Regions from separate parts of the Homo sapiens genome. Here all the other regions are linked to region 3. The links come from fine-mapping of genetic effects on gene expression. A gene starts in region 3. Each other region holds a variant in brackets. All regions are shown on one strand. Distances are between the middles of the regions.

Region 1 (2,769 bases), 35 kb after region 3:
CATGAATGGCTTAGCACCATTCCCTTGGTGGTGTCTTAGCAATAGGGAGTGATTCTTACAAAATCTGATCGTTGTAATATGTGGCACCTCCTCCACACTCTCTCTCCTTGTTTCACCATGTGATGTGCCTTCTCCTACTTCGTCTTTCACCATGAGTAAGAGCTCACTGAGGCCTCCCCAGAAGCCAAGGAGGTGCCAGCACCATGCTTGTACAGCCTACTGAACCAGGAGCCAATTGAACCTCTTTTGTTTATAAATTACCCACTCAAGTATTTATTTATAGCAATATAGGAACTTCCTAATACAAACAGGTAAAATTAATTTTAGTAATATATGTATTTAACCTAATATATCCAACATATTATATCATATAACCAGCATTTTTACAATGAGATACTTTATACTTTTTTGTAGTAAATTTTCACAGTCTGGCATATGTTTTATACTCATAGTATACCTCAAACCAGCCACATTTCAATTCCTCAGTAGCTACAGGTGACTAATGGCTACTATATTGGATAGCATAGTTCTAAAGCCTGTGTTTATCATGCCACATTCACTCAGGTTTATAGTCAGTTTGCCATACAAGTAGTTATTTTATATCACCTTGGACTTTGGCACCCTATGCCAGCCATATTGATCTATTTTACTACAAAATAGATTCCTTCTTTTAGTCTAATCTCTTACCTATTTTTCTGAGCTTTTCCTGCTTCTTGCTAAAGACTTCACCTTTGTAAATATCTAAATACAGTCATATGCTGCATAATGATGTTTCAGTCCAGTCAACAACAGACTACATATATGGCCATGGTTCTATAAGATCATAAAACTGTTATTTGTACTGTACCTTTTCTACATTTATGTATATTTAGATACATAAATACTTATCATAGTGTTAAAATTGCCTACAGGATTCAATACAGTAACGTCATGTACAGGTTTGTAGCCTAGGAACAGGCTATACAATATAACATAGGTGTATAGTAGGCTATACTATCTAGGTTTATGTAAATCTACTGTAAGATGTTTGCACAATGATGAAATTGCCTGACAATGCATGTCTTACAACATGTTCCCATTGTTAAGCAACCCGTGACTGTACTCAATTCTAATTTTTACTAGTTCTTTTTAAATTTGATCTTAAGAATACATTTTTTAAAATCTACAACTTTATTGAGGTAAACATCATAAAAGTCACTATATCTAGAATATAATTAAATGATTTTGGATAAATTTACAGAGTGTGTAACCATCAATATGATCCAGTATTAGAACATTTTTATCACCCCTGTAAGATTCTTCATGTCCATTTTCAGTTAATCCCCATTCCTACCTTGAGCCCCAGGCAACCACTTATCTTCTGTCTCTGTAGACTTACCTTTTCTGGACACATTCTCTAATAAACATACATTTATCCATTGAACAACCTGTGGAGTTCAATGTGCCGTATATGGCATAAAAGTTATCGTATAAATAAAATCTTATTCATTTTCAAATTACACTCTTCTGAACTCTGGTTATTAAATATCTCTGTAAAGCCTTTAGTATAGTCATCAAAACCACAATAAAACACTAAAAAGTTATGTTTTGGTAATCATAATTGTTGTTGTGATTAATAATGATAATTACATTTATATTGTAGAATCTTCATTTTTTCAGCATGGAAAAGGAGAAACATTTAATTCCTTTATGTCTTTCAGACTCGGG[G/T]TCTAAATGTGAGACCAAGAAGTTACCTCCAAATCAATGCAACAAATCTGGGCAAAGCATCTGCCAGAAACTAGTTTCTGCACAACAAAAAGCTCCTACACGAAAGAGTGGCTGCAACAAAAATTCAGTCCTAGTAAAACCTAAGAAAGGGCATTCAGGGAAGAAACCTTTAAAATGTAATGACTGTGGTAAAACCTTTAGTCGAAGCTTCTCTCTTAAACTTCATCAGAACATTCATACAGGAGAGAAGCCTTTTGAATGCAGTAATTGTAGAAAAGCTTTCAGACAGATCTCATCCATCCTACTTCATCAGAGAATTCACAGTGGAAAGAAAAGCCATGAATGCAATAAATGTGGGGAAAGCTTCAATCAAAGAACAACCCTTATTCTACATATGAGAATTCATGATGGAAAGGAAATTCTTGACTGTGGGAAGGCCTTGAGTCAATGTCAGTCTTTCAATATACATCAGAAAATTCATGTTGTTGGGAATGTCTGCCAGTGCAGAAAGTGCGGAAAAGCCTTCAATCAGATGTCATCCCTTTTACTTCATAAGAAAATTCACAATGGAAAGAAAACACATAAATATAATAAATGTGGGAGAGGCTTCAAAAAGAAATCAGTCTTTGTTGTACATAAAAGAATTCATGCTGGAGAGAAAATCCCTGAAAATGCGAAGGCCTTAAGTCAGAGTCTACAGCAAAGAAGTCACCATTTAGAGAATCCTTTTAAATGCAGAAAATGTGGGAAATTATTTAATAGGATTTCACCCCTGATGCTTCACCAGAGAATTCACACTTCAGAGAAACCGTACAAATGTGATAAATGTGACAAGTTCTTCAGGCGGCTTTCAACCCTTATTCTGCATCTAAGAATTCATAATGGAGAAAAACTATACAGATGCAATAAATGTGAGAAGGTCTGCAATCGGCATTCATCCCTTATTCAACATCAGAAAGTTCATACAAAGAAAAAGAAACTATTTGAGTGTAAGGAATGTGGGAAGATGTTTTCTGGAACTGCAAACCTTAAAATACATCAGAATATTCATTCTGAAGAGAA
Region 2 (2,769 bases), 110 kb before region 3:
GAGTCCCTTGTGCTTCCATATGAATTTTAGGATCAGCTTATCAATTCCCACAAAAAGGAAATTAGATTGCATTGAACATGTAGATAATGTTGGGAAGCATTGCCATCTTAATAATATTAAGCCTTCCAATGCATAAATATGGGATTTTCTTTCAACAATATTTTATAGTTTTCAGAATCTAACTTTTGTACTTTTGTTGATTCCTAAGTATTTAATTCCTTTTGATGCTATTGTAGGTAGAATTTTTTAAACCTTATTTTTAAATTGTTCTTTGCTTCTGCCACCAGGAGCCCCAAAAAACCTCCCCAAGGCCCCAATCTGCCCAAGGACTCTCAGGCCATGCTGAGTTAAAGGCTCTCTCTGAAGTCACATTAGTCCCAGAGGAGGCTCACCTGGTGGGGCAGTTTGGTGTCATTCCCATTTCAATTAGTCTTTTGATCAGAGATGCTCCTTCAGTTACAACCTCTCTACATAGCATTCTTGATCTGCCAGAGAGTCGGTGTAATGGTTTTAAAATCCATTAGACAAATGGTGTTTTTCTCACGGGAAGAATGAATGTATAGGTTTCTGGACTCTTGTCAGGAGACCTGATGTTGCAACACAAGAACCAATCCAGCAATCCTGCCTTTTGAAGTCTGAACAACATCCTTTACATTATGTTAAGAGATTTCTGGCCTTATAATGTAATTTATTAGCGGCCAGCATTTGGTACATGGATGAGTTCAACAAATTCTTAGAACCATGGCAGGCTACTCAAGCTACTTTGTCAATATATTCAGCCTCCTCAAATTTCACTTCCACAAATGCCCTAGATTTTTCTTAATCTACACTAGTAAACTAACTGCCGAAAATTCTTCTAAGATACAGTTACTCTTTGCCCTATTTTAATTTTGTACATATGTATGATTTTATTTATCTATTTTTCAAACAGGGTCTGGCTTTGTCACCCAAGCTGGATTGCAATGGTGTGATCATGGCTCACTGCAGCCTCGAACTCCTGGGCTCAAGCAATCCTCCCACCTCAGCCTCCCGAGTAGCTAGGTGCCACCATGACTGGAAAATTTAATTTTTTTTTAGATATGGGATAGGGTCATGCTACATTGCCCAGGCTGGTCTCAAATGATCCTCCTGCCTGGGCCTCCCAAAGTGCTAGGATTACAGGCATGAGCCACTGTGCTCAGCCTGATTTTTGCATTTAATGTTATGGTCATGTTAAATTCACTTTGTTATTCCATGTGAGCAACAATGGAATGGGGGAATAAGATGAACTGTTAGCTGTCTCTTCAGAACAGCCATATGTACCTATGCAAACAGATGTTAATAGGTGGTATATCACACGAATCCGGAAGTTCAGTATATTCCAATCCTTTGGCTCATCTCCAATATCACCTTTCCAATAGTAGAGCTATATTTTTTTCTGTTCAATATTCTGTTACACAAGAAGTATG[A/GA]CCATATATCCTGCTTTGCTGAGGATATGAACACCTGTTGTCAAGTGCCCTGTGCAGTTAGCTACTCCTTTCACTCTCAAAAATGTCCCAGTTTGAACAATAAATTATATGGTAATTGCATTAATCAGTTCAGGCTGCCGTAACAATATACCACAGACTGGGTGGCTTAAACAACCAACATTTATTTTCTCACAGTCCTGGAGATTAAAAGTCCAAGATCAAGGTGCTGGCAGGGCTGGTTCCTGGTGAGGTCTCTCCTCCTGGCTTGCAGATGGCAGCATTCTTGTTGTGTCCTTACACAGCATTTCCTCTGTGCACATGTGGAGAGACAAACCTCTGGTGTCTCTTCCTCTTATAAGGACACTAGTCCTATGGGATTAGGGCCTCACTCTTATGGCCTAACTTAACCTTAGTTTCTTAAAGGCCTTATGTCCAAATACAGTCATGTTGGGGTTTAGGACTTCAACAAGTAAATTTGGTGGTGGTAGAGGCCAGCATTTGGTGGTGCTGGTGGGAACACAATTCAGAACTGAATTCACAATTCAATTCACAGTGACTCTTGTGAATAAAGTATAAAATTTAACCAGCATTCCACTTTAACAATGCATAAAAATAGTCTCTAAATTTGGTTATGAGCCATCTTAACCCTATGACTTTAAACAATGTAAGACATCTTTCAACAATATCATACAAAATCCCTTAGGTGAATTTTTTTTGCCTTAATGCTAGAAATTCAAGAGCTAAACTTTAAGTTATTCCAAGCAGTTAGATACCAGTATTACATATACCTTTTGGATTCAGCATTCTCCATCCTCCTTAAATTATCATTATCCAGAACCCTAGACCTCTATTCATCCCAGGTGACTATAATGAATAATCAGGCGTTTGCTCATCGCACACCATGAGATGCTTTCCAGTCTAGAATATAAGTCTTATTCGCCCCATCTCATCCAAAAAGCAACTCCCAATACCTGATTTTTCCAAAGATTCTAATGCCCATTACCCAATCTTCGTACCAAATTCTGTATGATTGTTTCTTTACTTGCAAGCAACTGACCAACAGGAGGCAAAAATCAAGTACCGGAAAGACAATGGGTAGTTTGAGGAATCACAGACTTGGAAAGTACAAAAACCAGGGTGGTTCCAAGGACCAATCAAAAGAATAACTGCATCAGCTTTTAGGGAGTTGCCATTGGATGACACAGATCCAAATGCCTTTTGAAATTCAGAGACAATTTTATTGGCCACGTCCATCAAAAACATATGGTAGGGTATGGCCAGTTACTCAAAAGGAAAAGATGAGATAGTGCAGCCAAAAGGA
Region 3 (2,769 bases):
AGAAATCACAGGCCCTGGGTTCCCCTCACACATATACCCACCTATGCAACTACAAAAACTGGGTCTCAACACACAGGCGGGTACACACACACAGAGTCAAAAACACTGGCTTTCCTTGGCCGGTCGCGGTGGCTCACGCCTGTAATCCCAGCACTTTGGGAGGCCGAGGCGGGCGGATCACGAGGTCAAGAGCCCACATGGTGAAACCCCGAATCTACTAAAAATACAAAAAACTTAGCCGGGCGTGGTGGCGGGCGCCTGTAGTCCCAGCTACTAGGGAGGATGAGGCAGAAGAATGGCTTGAACCTGGAGGCGGAGGTTGCAGTGAGCCGAGATCGCGCCACTGCACTCCAGCCTGGGCGACAGAGCGAGACTCCGTCCCAAATCAATCAATCAATCAATCAATCACTGGCTTCCCACACACACACAACACTCATCCACAAAAACTGGCTACGGCTCGAAACCTTAGTCGGATAGTATTTTAGGCTTTATGGGCCACAAGATCTCTGCTGCAAGTACTGAACCCTGCCATTGTGCAAAAGCAGTCATAGAATAGACGTAAATATACACAAGTATACATATTCAAAATGTGTGGTTCCCCACAGAGACGTACACACCGCAAAAACTGGGCTCTAGAGTCAACAGTAAATAGTTCAGGCTTTGTGGGGCCACACAGTACCTGTTCCCACCTACTCAACTCTGCCCTTCCGCAGAAGTGGATGCAGAAGCTAAACAAATGTCCAGAACATACACACATATTCAAAATCAGTGCCCCCCGCCACGTACAAAACCACAAAAATCGCCTCAGAGACACACGTATAAGAAAACACAAAGGTTCGTCCTCACACATGTTCAGGGTAACACAATGTGGGTCTCACCTACACAAACGCGCGATCAAAACCCGGGACCCGCACGCCCAGATGACCGGGACGAGGCCATACTTCACATCTTCTCTCACAGACTCACAATTACGCAACGGTCACCTCAAACGACTTTATGGCGGACACTCCCGGACCTTCCGCTGTCCGCCCCTCCTCGTCCCTTCTCCCCGCCGGGGTGAGCCTCATCCACCCAGTCTCAACCCCGACGCAGTCAGTCTCACTGCCAGCCCGCCGGCTACGCAGGCGCAACACCGCATGGAACAGCCCCCAGGGCGTGCAGGGGCCGTTGGGAAATGTAGTCCGAGCGCCACGCAAAGGACTGTGGGCCTCTTCGCAAAACGTGCAGGTGAGTCCCCACTGTTGGCCAAAAGAAACATCCCTCCGCTGCTCTCCCGGGTCAGTTCATCTCCGACCCGGACAGAGCAGAACCAGCGCAGCCCAAGCCTTCTTCACCTCACGTTCTGGGTGGGACTTTCCACAGCCTCGCTGCACCCCGGTGGATTCTGGAGGTCGCAGGATGACTGCGTAGTGCGCACGCGCGGGTGGGCGGTGTCCGCCTCCGCGGGTGAGGCCGGCTCCAAACCTCGTGAATGTGGGGGCGAAGGACGCTGGCTGGCTGGAGGCAATAAGCCCTCACACGGGAACGTGTGGTTGTGGGAGCGGGGAAGGCGGCGAATTGGGGAGGTTGGGTTTGGTTAAAGAGCTCGAGGAAGGGCCTCAGTGTCCACACGTGATCTCCTGAGAGGATGAAAAGCAGGGCCAGGCGCCAGTCCCCTAGGAGACCGGTGTGCGTGCCAGCCTCGGGGGTGTGCGCAGGCGCGGGACCTCGCGCGTCCGCCTGCACCAATCGTGCGAACGCGCTTGTGCGTGTGGCGCTGAGGGGTCGGGGCCTCAGGCCGGGGCTGGTGGTACTGTCCCCGAGAGGCGGGTGAGCGCACGCCGCGTGGCCTTGTTTGGGGGCGGGGCCACGCGCCCGCATGCGTGGTGCGTGTGTGAAGGGGGGTGCAGCGCGCGGTCCCGGGGTCCCGGAGGGGAGTGCGCAGGCGCTGAGTCCCTGCTCGGCTGTCTCGGTGGTCGCCGCCGGGGTCTGAGCCCGGGAAGACCGAGGTAAGGGGGCTGGCGAGAGTGTGGGTGTGTCTGAGGGCGTGGGCGGCGCGCCCGCCACTGCGTGGACGTTCCTGCCAAGGCGCGCGTGGGTTTGCGCATCCACGATGGCGTGGGCGTCTGCGCGGGTGCTTGCGTGGGCGGTGGGCTCGCGCCTGCGTGGGTTCTCGGCCCGCCACGGCGTGGGGTTTGCGCCCTTCGCTGCTGTGGTTCTCGGGGCTTGTGCGCCCAAGTGTGAAGTTGGCGCCGCGTGTGAGGCGAGCCGTGTGTGCCTGTGTGTGAGGGAGCTATGTCGGGACCGCGGATGTGTATCGCTGCGTGACCCACGCGAAGGAAACAATGGAGCCATTGGGAAGCCGGGAGTGGGTGTGTGACGCTGACTGTGAAGATTTGTGTTTCTGGAGTGTGTGCGTGTGTCAGTGTCAGGCTGATGTGGGCGTTTATTGTAGCCTTGGGTTACTGTGTGACTTGCCTGGGCGTCTGTCTGCCACTTAGCGTCAGTGGCTTTGCGGTTATGAGTGTGTGACTGTGCCTTTCTGGTGTATATCTCACTGTAACCATGGAAATGGAGGCCCACAGGGGAAGAATTCTTAGCAGCTCTAAGATGTGATGGGCTGCCCTGGAAATCTGTGGAACTGTTTAATTGTGCATGACTTTCCTCCTTGGTAAAATAGCATATTAATAGCACCTGCCTGGGTGTTATTGGGAAGATTAAATGGGATGACGTAGCTGAAACACCCTGCACAGAGCTTGTCACATACTAATCACCGTGTTTAGGTGTTGG

What was found. PIP is the estimated chance that this variant, and not a neighbour inherited with it, causes the effect.
Region 1: its variant is the best candidate, but not a certain one, in a credible set for the expression of ZNF667-AS1 in subcutaneous fat (GTEx, PIP 0.51).
Region 2: its variant is the best candidate, but not a certain one, in a credible set for the expression of ZNF667-AS1 in whole blood (TOPMed, PIP 0.56).

Annotation. Positions count from the first base shown.
Region 1 is chr19:56,441,673-56,444,441 of GRCh38, reverse strand. It overlaps ZNF667 (zinc finger protein 667), which reads left to right. Exons shown (of 7, transcript NM_001321356.2): 7 at 1,701-2,769. Among named protein-coding and RNA genes, the nearest start is that of ZNF667, 34 kb to the left of the region's middle. The variant G/T (reference allele first, on the strand shown) is at 1,708.
Region 2 is chr19:56,581,736-56,584,504 of GRCh38, reverse strand. It overlaps ZNF470 (zinc finger protein 470), which reads right to left. Exons shown (of 6, transcript NM_001001668.4): 6 at 1,611-2,769. Among named protein-coding and RNA genes, the nearest start is that of ZNF71, 12 kb to the left of the region's middle. The variant A/GA (reference allele first, on the strand shown) is at 1,449.
Region 3 is chr19:56,476,491-56,479,259 of GRCh38, reverse strand. It overlaps ZNF667-AS1 (ZNF667 antisense RNA 1), which reads right to left and starts at 1,386. Exons shown (of 2, transcript NR_036521.1): 1 at 879-1,386. It overlaps ZNF667 (zinc finger protein 667), which reads left to right and starts at 1,915. Exons shown (of 7, transcript NM_001321356.2): 1 at 1,915-1,988.